Linked DNA regions of Homo sapiens. The protein of the gene in region 1 purifies or fractionates together with the protein of each later gene. This does not show direct contact. Each region holds a gene or a part of one and is shown on either strand. Other genes may lie near its edges.

What was found.
Region 2: the proteins of EMCN (region 1) and PPP1R9A purify together in Homo sapiens (affinity purification with mass spectrometry; one large-scale study listed by BioGRID and IntAct). This does not show direct contact.

The regions. Positions count from the first base shown.
Region 1 is NC_000004.12:100,514,108-100,520,208, reverse strand, and holds the start of EMCN (endomucin isoform 1 precursor), read left to right. Parts: upstream 1-2,186; 5' UTR 2,187-2,294; coding exon 2,295-2,358; intron 2,359-6,101. UniProt on the Homo sapiens protein: Endothelial sialomucin, also called endomucin or mucin-like sialoglycoprotein, which interferes with the assembly of focal adhesion complexes and inhibits interaction between cells and the extracellular matrix.
Region 2 is NC_000007.14:95,266,748-95,271,295, reverse strand, and holds part of PPP1R9A (neurabin-1), read right to left. Parts: intron 2,747-4,548; coding exon 2,589-2,746; intron 2,090-2,588; coding exon 1,789-2,089; intron 1-1,788. UniProt on the Homo sapiens protein: Binds to actin filaments (F-actin) and shows cross-linking activity. Binds along the sides of the F-actin. May be involved in neurite formation. Inhibits protein phosphatase 1-alpha activity.

The DNA of each region.
Region 1 (6,101 bases):
TTTGCCTTTAGTGTCATGCATAAAATGTCCCCTTTACCTCAATTATATATAGTAGCCCATATTCTCTCCTAGAATTTTGTGCTTTGTATTTTAAACTTAAACCTTTAACATATAAGATTAACATGTAAGATTTGGTATTTTAAGTAAAACAGACACTTAATTTTAAAATTTTCTTAGATGGTTAACACATTGTCAAAAAAATCCCACAGTAAATATATACCCTATTCATCACAGTCACTACATGTTAAACTCACCTATATTTAATCTCTCTCTCTATATATACATGCATATACACACAAGCATGCATATGCAAACACATATCTGTAAATATATCTGCGTGTATATTTATGTAGATAGAAACAAATATAAATATTTCTGTGTCTGTACTTTCTATTCTATGCCACTGATCTGTTTGTCTCCTCTGGCAATCATTGCTGTTTTAATTAAATATTTTACCTTAAAAATATCTTCTGATTTAGTAAAGCAAGGCTGACCCCTCCCCTCATTATTACTCCTTTTTTTTTTTTCTTTTCTGTTCTTATATTCTAAATTTTTTTTGGCTAGCATTTTAAGATGTTTCTTAGTTTTTGTTTTTCATCAACAGGCCCTTTGTCTTTTAAGTAGCCTTAATATTCTACTGTCAAGCATTCTTAGAATAGGTATCTAGTGTACTAAATGGAAATGCATAGCACTTAGTGCTGAGGAGTCCAAATGCCATGGAATCCCTGAAGAAATTATTGTGACCAGCATCAGTGGTGACTCTGAGTACTGACAACTTGAGTACAGAAGGAGCAGGAAGTGAGGCAATGTGAGGGTTCGACTGTGATTTCACATGGCCACACCCCAATTTATTTATGGAAAGTGCATGTGACATCTATTCACATATGTTCCTATCTTTATATTCTCCAGGATATGCCAAATAAAGTAACAACGCCAAAGGCAGTCTGTTTTAGAAAATCAATTAGAAGAGGGTAAAATGCAATCTTATGCACAAAATAGAAACTTAGCTCTTCTGACCCCTGGTATAACGTTGGATAAAACAAGCTAACGTTTTTAAGTGTTTTGAGCAGTTGACTCAGTCTAACTCGTTTTGTATGAAGTATTTTCCAGCATGGTGCAGCAGTGAAACTGTGTGCCCTTCTTGCAAACAGGTAAAGGTATAATTTTTGAACAGTTTTTGTTTTTTTGTTTGTTTGTTTTTTTTGTGGGGAAAATGAATCTACACCGATTCATTGACAATGTTGTCCAGTAAAGCCTCATGAGTAAAGGTACGTAAAAGGATGATCAGCTAAAATGAGACATGAAGCCTGTGGCTGAAGAAAAATATAATGTCATTGGCACACACGGGGCTTGTACCCAGGACTATGGCAGTGTTATCACCACGTTTTAATCAGTCACAACTGACATCAACGTGACCCCTGCTATATAGATTATCCAGCCTGGTTGGCATTCCAGTCTTAAAGAGTCAACCTCTCCCAGCTTCACTGATGTGTGATGGCATTTCACCCACTGCCATTCCAACCCTGTCCCCTAAAGAAGAGCATTCATGAGGTGTTATAAGTAATTGTTCCTTATTCATCATCAAAGTTCTTTAGTAAAAACCAGGAGTGACCAATAGACATTCACATGTCTTTGCTTAATTCTATTAAAAAAGACTGAAAAACTTCTCTGTACACCCTTTGGAAGTCTTTTTGCTTACTCAAGAGCAGAGCATAATCTATTTAATACAATTTTTCACTTATATCCAAAAGGTGGCCTTCTCTAATCTGGCTTTCAAGTTGGAAAGAGAAAAGTTAAGTTGATTCCTGATGGATTTTGCTCTAAAATTTAACCCTCGGGCAGTGAAAGCCTCTTTATCCCAACTGAGTAGCTGCTAAATGAGGCCCCTTTATAACCACTTCAGAATGCACTTTCAAAACAAAAGTTAGAAGGCCCTATGATCCATTCTCAAGAAGGATCTGTTTCTGTTCAAAACCAGTCCCGACCTTTCTGTTGAAGAAGAACAAAATAATGTAGTAACAAAAACACAAGTGGCTGCCAAAGGAAGAGAGAGAAAAAAAAAGAGTTCCTGTAAGGGACTGAAACAATAAATCTCCTCTCTGCTGAACTCCCAAAGGGAGTGTGTGTATTTCCTCCCGTTCTTTATCAGAGCCCCCAAAATAAGTAGGAATGGGCAGTGGCTATTCACATTCACTACACCTTTTCCATTTGCTAATAAGGCCCTGCCAGGCTGGGAGGGAATTGTCCCTGCCTGCTTCTGGAGAAAGAAGATATTGACACCATCTACGGGCACCATGGAACTGCTTCAAGTGACCATTCTTTTTCTTCTGCCCAGTATTTGCAGCAGTAACAGCACAGGTATTTTTGTCTCTTATTCCTCTGGTGGTACGGATTGGAAATCACTAGTAGGTGACTCAGCCTCAGTTTACTTTCAGGGATCTTCCCCTGACACTTAGATGCAGCAATTCCTTTGATGAGTTGAGTGTTTGGATGTTGACTTGGAGTGCGTGGAGAAGGCTTGAGAGAGACGGTATTTGTTTCTACTGAAGGGAAATGTTTGCGGGTACAGCAGCCTGAAAGCATGTTCGATGAAATCACAAAGTACTGGAAATATACAATGGCCTCTTTAGAGTATAAAAATCTGGGAATAGAATGCTGGTTAAAAATGTACTCTCTCTCAAAAATGTATTCTTTGCAGACATAGCTCAGAAATAATAAGATTGGCATGTGTGGGTGAAAGGCTGTAATCGGAGACATTATATTGCAGATGTTAGCCTGTATTTTTCCCAACTATTTTTCAGCTCTGATAAATTGAGGAGTTGAGTAAAGCTGCCTAGGGAAGTGAGTCCTAATATTTTGAGGTAGGGTGAATAGAGAGAGATTCATTTGATTACAGTCTATAGATTTTTGCTGAAGAAATATGCACATATCTAAACATATACATACATTTTGCATAACATTTCAGGAATTTATAAACATAAAAATCCTACCTATTGACTTCTGGTTAAGAAACTCAGATAAAAAATAGGTTTGTATCTTCATAAGCCTTGAGTATATCAATGGACAATTTCAAGAACGATTTACATTTGACTTTTAACCCTTCCTGAGTGATTGAAAATAAACTGTTAAATTTAATCAATATTTATTAGGTTCCTACCCTGTACTGCAAGGAATATAAAAACAAGTAAGACGTCCTTGCCCAAAGTGGTAGAAGTACTACTGGGAGAAATAAGCATGTGATTTTAATATAAAATAGATTTAATAAGTGTGAAAATTGAAGAACAAACTACCATAAAAGAACACAATTGGGAAAGACTGATTCAGACTCTGAGGGGTCTTGGGGGGAAAAAAACAAAAACATTCATTTCTAATTTTATTTTGCTCATTCTCAATTTAAAAGATTACTGCCTACAAAATCTTAATTTACAGTGATAATGTCGGAAGAAAATAAGTACATCCCTCCCTGAACAACATTTTATCAGTCATTTCTATGTAAATATCTATGTAAATTTAGTACAAATTCAAAAACACTTCAAATTCACGCACATTTGCTCATCATGCATCTTGGAGTTTCTGCGGTTAAGTTGCAGCTGGTATCAAGGCCAGAAAATTTCACTTAGAAGAGTTACTAGAATCTGATTTTTTAAAATAAAGAACATTTATGTGGTACCACAGAAATTATTGCATTAGCTTATAAGTAACTTCGGTCTGCTTGGGGAAGATTGATAGGAATCTCAATCCCATGGAAAATATTGCTCACAATTAGATGTGTCAGATTAGTATAAAGTCTGAAAGTCTGGCTTAGCCTGCTCGCTGCTCCAGGTCTGCAAGCATCGACGAGTGCAATACTTTGCCGGCATTGTTAAACTCTGAATAGATCATTCGTTCTTCCGAAAGTAAAGTGGAATAGCATCAATAGAAGTAGCCTGCAATACCTGGCCTTAAGAAAGACATGAAGATGAAGGACAATCCAGAGATGTACTGGCAGGTTTTTCTGTTATGGTCATTTTGGGAAAATACAAACCTCCTTTTGCTCACTGGTAATGAGCTCAACCTGTTAACAGTTCTTCTTTCTAATGAACTGTTAACCCCTGTAGGATAATTTCCATTTGAGCAGAGACAATAGTTACATAATAACTATCTCCTTCAAGTCAGCCAACAAGTCTACTTGTTAACTGAAGGCCAGTATCTGTAAACAAACAAACAAACCAAACCTACTCCATTTGTCTTAGAGAGGAGGCTATGCTCAAGAGTATAAATTGACCATTTGAGTGGAGCATGAAAGGATTGGAAGATAATTTCCCATCTACATGTATGATTTTGTTGTACCTGGTTCTGCCTGTTTTTTTGTTTGTTTGTTTGTTTGTTTGTTTTTGCAGATTGGGCACAGGGAAGAAAGCATTTCCTAAGCTGACTGAGTACCTTTATTTTTCCTTAACCCCTAGTTCCAGATACACATTTGATTTCAGAGTTTTACATGTTCCTCAAACTTAGGAATGATTAACATATTTCATCAGCAAAGTTGATTCTTGGGGGTGAGGAGGGAGGCATTTCATCTGCCTTAAATTCACAAGCTGTCAAGCAGATCCATGCTCTTTTGCGTAGTAATTTATTCCTAAATAATTATCTTTTAGATAAATTGACTACTTTTCTTTTCTTCTGATGTTTTTGTCAGTCTCAGATTTAAATAACTACAATACAGTCTTTCATGCTGTTTGTGAAAATCAAGGGAATCTTTCTACATCACAGTCAGTGAGTTACTTTTTATTACTTGGTTGGTGGTATAATATTTTTTCAGTCTCCAATTTGGAAAGCTGTTCTATTGAAATGTGTATGGAAGGTTTCTGAAACGGAACTGCCATTCTTTCTTAAGGTTTTCTAAATTGTATTTAAAACTGAACAGACCCCTACCCTGGCGTTTAAATCTAGATGTATGGATGAGCTTTTGACTTTCAGGGCTGAGAGAAGTTAATGAAGAGAGATTCCTCCAAGAAGAAGGAAACAATATGCACTTACTCATCAAGTGCCACTTGCTTTTTGAAATTTGCCTTAACTTGGGAAATATTAAAATGTTGTAGGCATTCTCAGACAGGGACAAACACCATTTTCTTTATTGGTATATGAAGAAGGATTTAATTGCTTGGAGAAATTCCTTTGTTAGTGATTGAACATTCAATTTCATGAAAAAGAAAGATTAAACACACTATCAGCAGACTCCATGCTAAATATCGTAAGTTTATAGAACTTAATAAAAGTTAACCCTCACCGTAGAAGTGGGGGAGAGAGGAAGATGAGGGAAGTTATTATCAATTTGGCTATATTGTAGGCTTTAAGAGGTAAATAAAGAATGACATAGAAAATTTACAACTAGCCTGGTTTTGGATGTAAGGACATCTGAAACGGCTACATATAAAAGTGGAAATTATTATAAGCTTTGAAGCTTGAAAATCAAGAGGTTCTAGAGGAAGGGAATTTATTGAGTAGATACATTGAAACATTGGTATATTCTAGTCTAGAAACATAAAGAGGTCACAATTTGGGCATAGTTAAGTACTGAGAAATAAGATTGGAATATAGCCTCAGGAGATATTGAATACCAGGATGAGAAATATTGACTCATATAGTTAATTAGTTTGAGTCTGTAAATGGTTTGAGTATGGGAATTATATGATCATGGCTATAAAATGGGAAGACTAATCTGTCAGCAGAATATAGATTAGACTACTGGAGTCAAGAGAAATAAAAGGTAAGGAAACTAGGTCAACTGTCATTGCAAGTCTGAGAGTGTGTCAATAAAATGAAAAGAAGGGTCTAGGAAGAGCTTTAAGGAAGTAGAAAGTGTGTGATTTGACATATCATTGACTGGCAGTGAAGGAGAATGTGACTGAAATGCAGAGACAGAGTTTTTTTTAATACCAGAAATAGGAAAATGGCTTGGGAGCAGAGATTAGGAAAGATATGAGGAGACGGTTTAGTGAGAAAAATGGTATTTGGTTTTGGACATGGTGATTTTGTAATCCTGATATTTATGTAGAGATGTTCAATGGTAAATTAAAAGTGTCTGATGCGTAGTCGGTATGCCCCTGGAGCCAGAGGTGATG
Region 2 (4,548 bases), on another chromosome or scaffold:
TGTCTTTTCCTTTTTATTCCTCTGGTCAAACTTCTTGTGGTTTCCTAGTAATATGGCAAGTTATCTAAGATGTTTAACTTCTAAAGCTATATACTTAACCTACTGGCTCACTTTTGTGTGTAACTACTCCACCCTGCATAAGCAAACTGCTACAGCCAGGCTGGGATAGCCTTGTACCTTTAAATCATATGATATGTGCCTGTCTCTGTTAATGACATCACTTTACCCGCTATTCCCTCCTTACCTACCCTTTTTTTCCCTTAAGTGCTTTGATGGCTATTCTAATTGTACTTCCTTGGATAGGTTTTGTTTACCAACCTCAGCTGGACGCAATCTCTCTCTCTTCTGAGCGTTGATATAATTGTACTCTATCTATACTTGCAGAGGCCCAATGCTTTTAATAAGCAATAAATCCTGTAAAGCTTTAAAAAAGCCAGTTTCTATTTACTAGACATTAATTCAATGAATATTTTTGAACACATCTTCTGGGTCAAATAATGTGTTATTAACCACACAAAAAATTAGAATAATAATCTCTAGTAATTGTGAGTAGAAAATTGATAGTGTTCAATTTACTTTATTTAATCTTGACTGAACAAAGGCCCAGTGCTATGTAAGCCTCGGGACCAAAACTTTAGTATTAGGTTGTTTATATAACAGGAACGAGGAAAATATTTTCATGCCTTCTACTGGCATATAACCTGTTTTACAAATCTCTAGAAAAAAATCTTTTACTTCCTCTAATTTGATATTCCGTTAGATGCTTATCATTTAGCCAGTTATAATGGGACTTCTCCATCCTAATTTCCACTGATGTCCCTCAGATATGAAAAAAAATGATTTGTAAATGTGGTATTGACACAATTCAGAAAATCGCCAACTCCTGTTAGGGTAACCAGAGCCTTATCCTCAAGCCTGCAATCAAACATGGCTGTAATTAATCATCTTTGTGGTAACTTGATAGACCAAAAGTAAAGGTATAACACTTTTTAAAAATTCTAGATAAATGGCAACCAATGATGAAGCCATTTTCAGAGTTTATCCAGCAATTTTGAGTATAAGAAAATATACTTCTAGACCAGGCATCAGGAAGCTTTCTTTACCTTTCAGGGGCCACAGAGTAAAATATTTTAGGTTTGTGAGATACACAGTCTCTGTCACAACGACTCAACACTGCTACTGTAGCATGAAAATAGATAGTATGTAAGTAAAAAAGTGTGACTGTACTCCCATAAGACTTCATTTACAAAAGCAGGTGGAGACTACATTCGGTTGATTATCCCTCTTCTAGAAGATCTGCACTGGTTACGTGGAGAGGTATATTAGCAATTCATCCAAGAACATTATTAAGTATCAATTATATGCCTGTGTTACTTTGATCTTCGTCTTTTTTTCCTATATGACTACGTTAGTGTTTACTGAAACTCTGGGCTGCTATTCTACAAAATCGCTCTATATTTTTCTATATGACTATGTAGTGTTTTTTTCTTTATGACTGTGTTAGTGTTTGTTGAAACTCTGGGCTGCCCCACTCCCCTGAAGAACTCCCTTGAGTAGTAAACTTATAGAGAGCTGAAGAGATAAAAATACTGAACCAGATAGGAAAAGATAAAACTAAATTAAAGTAAAATACATGGAGGGGTTGTTTCTCTTATTCTATAATATAAAAAGAAATTAATATTAATTATTAGCTATGAGAAAACAAATGACTTATGATTATGAGAAAAAGTCATTTTTATACTGTACAAGCTGAGGTGTTATGAAGTCAGAAAAAGAAATTAACAATACCTTTTTCTCGTAATATTTTCTTGTTGGTGGTTTGGTGATGGCAAGGAGATTCTTCCACATCATGATCAGACTTTGAAGTAGAAAACAGTGAAGTGTCTCCCCACATAGAGGAGAGAGGCCCCATTTCTGGGTCCAGTGGTTCTTCTTGAAATTCAGCTATGTGGTCAGACGAGAAGGGCACATTGCTATCCACCGGGGTGAGGGGTGGAACACCAGAATCTGATTCTGGAGAAGACGTTCTCAAACCCTTAGGTGGAAGTAATTTGGTAATATGCATGTGGTTATAGAAACTGTTTGATGGCTGTTGGTATAAGAGATTATAAGGAAGGTTATGCCACTGAGTATCAGTTCTATGCAATACTTACTTTGAAATAAGACCAACCTTTTATTAGTGAATCCCCATGAAAACCAGTTTTTGTTGATTTACAGATGAGAATGCATGGTTCATACCAATTCACCATATTAACATCGTCACTAATACATATACCTAAGACCTACAGAAACAATTACTTGTACGTTCATTATTTCCCACTAAGTAAAACCAATAGCTGAATATCAAAAGCACCATCATGAAATATGACAATACAGATAATGCTCTTGGTTAGTTCACTGAATGAATAGACAAAATATTTTGAATTACAACAATATAAAGAATTCAGGAGACAAAGACGTGAACTATTCTAGCTGCTTACCAACTAGGACATAGACTCTGTTTGCAGAAAAATCATAATCTTCAATAAGCTGTAGGAACAATGATATACTCCAACAGTACAAATCAGGAAACGGTCAAGGGTGCTCACCTTTCTCTCTAGACTGTCCTCCCCATCTGTGGAACTAACACTATCATACAGTCTTGTCCTAGAGGGTCTCTGGCGTCTGTTCTTCACAGAGAGCTGGGCTCGAGTTTTCAGTGCTTTTGAATCCAGGCGCTCTGTCTCTGGGACTGCTTCATTCAAGTCTAAGAATATTGAAAGATAATCAGTGAGAGAAACCTTTGGAGAGAACTGATGAAGAGACCACAGACACTGATAAAATCTCAAGGTAACCAGTAACATCAGGTAAGGATCAGGTGACCACCATGACAGCCTGTAACCAAGAAATAACCAAGAAATCAGTGGGGCTTAGGAGAAATATACAAAGTCAAAGGAAGAAACCAACACTAAAGATGATGAAGGCGCTATAAAAATCCAACATCCGAAAAGCATACAACCTTCCTGCAATATAATTATAAAAATCACTAATTTGTATTTACTATTTATGTGTATGCATGTTGGGAAGTTAGATGACCAAAGATATAGAGGAGGGTATATCAAAAGTTGACAGATCTTAGAAACCAAGGACAAAAAACCTACAAAGTCAGGTTTCCAGTTCAACTACAGGCAACAGAAGGTAACTATCATAAATTTACTGTAGCAAAATTTACTAGCAGTCTTCAGGTACTATATCATTTTCATTTTAATATATAATTTTCAACCCAAAACAGTTTCTGAAAATCTACCTTGTTCCTTTTTGAAACCTGTAGAAAGACCAGTGAGGAATTTACCTAATCAGCAAATTGACGATAGCTGGGGAAAAGAAACAAGGTCTGGCTACACAAATGAAGAAACAAACAGTTAAAAAATCGTAAGTACTTAGTTTACTAGTATTGTGGATGAGGTAGGATAAACATTTCCTTTTCTTTCATTAACATCTAACTTTGTATTACAAGTTATTTGTATGTGCCTCTGACTCATCTCTGTGAATACCTTCTCTCCCCACCAGAAACGACACTGATTTTCGAAGGGTAAATACTTAAGTCTTTAAATAAAAAGGCTAAAAGAAAAAGAGAGTAAAGTGGGACACAAAGAAAATGAACTATTAACAGCAAAGGCCACAGAGAGAATTCAATTAGTCCTCTTTAGCCTGGCTCTTACCACCTTTAATTTTGCTACCTAGATTTTAAGTTAGGACCCCGAAGTTAACATTCTAAAGGAAAGGTACCCATTAACATACCTGGATATTGGTTAAGGAAAAGTACTCTCTGGTGGAACTTATTTGAAATGCTACTACTCCTTTCATTTGCATATGTAATCACTCCTTAGAAATAAAGGAGTTTGATCATTAATCCTATTTTATCTCTTCAGAGTGGCAGTCATTAGCTGAAGTCATGTTCAAGGAGTTAATAATTGAGTGCAAATAACTGAGTTGCAGAAAATTATGTACTTGTATTAACAGAATAAACAATTTCTTATAATATTATTAGCTCAGGCAATTCCTTTTTACAGCATTATTCTAGATGTGCTCTAAATATGCTATACTACAAAACCAAAGCAAGGAAGCACCTCAGTTTGTGCCTCTTGTCTATGAAACCTAGCACTTAGTATATGGCTCTAACAAACAAAATTAACTACATTTTTGCCCAGGAGATACATCCATTGAATGACAATATTTAGAGAAGGTTTTGACTTTTCATTTCCTATATCTGAATGAAGAATGAATACTCAGAAAATTCAGACCATTCAGGTACTTATAAAGAACAGCTAAATATTTTCTAATTAGCAGTCTCTTTACTTTTTACATGTCAGGGGAGAAAAAATAATTCCTTGATCACTTTAATTTCCTCCTTCCGATAAAATCTATATTTGTAGCTGCCCATTAAGAGTTCATTAGTTGTGATAACTGGGAGAGAGTCAATCTTATAAGCTCTTGCTTAAATATAAAATGTGGAACACCACGTAGATGAAAGCTGTAATATAATTAGAAACACTGTATGTAGTACTT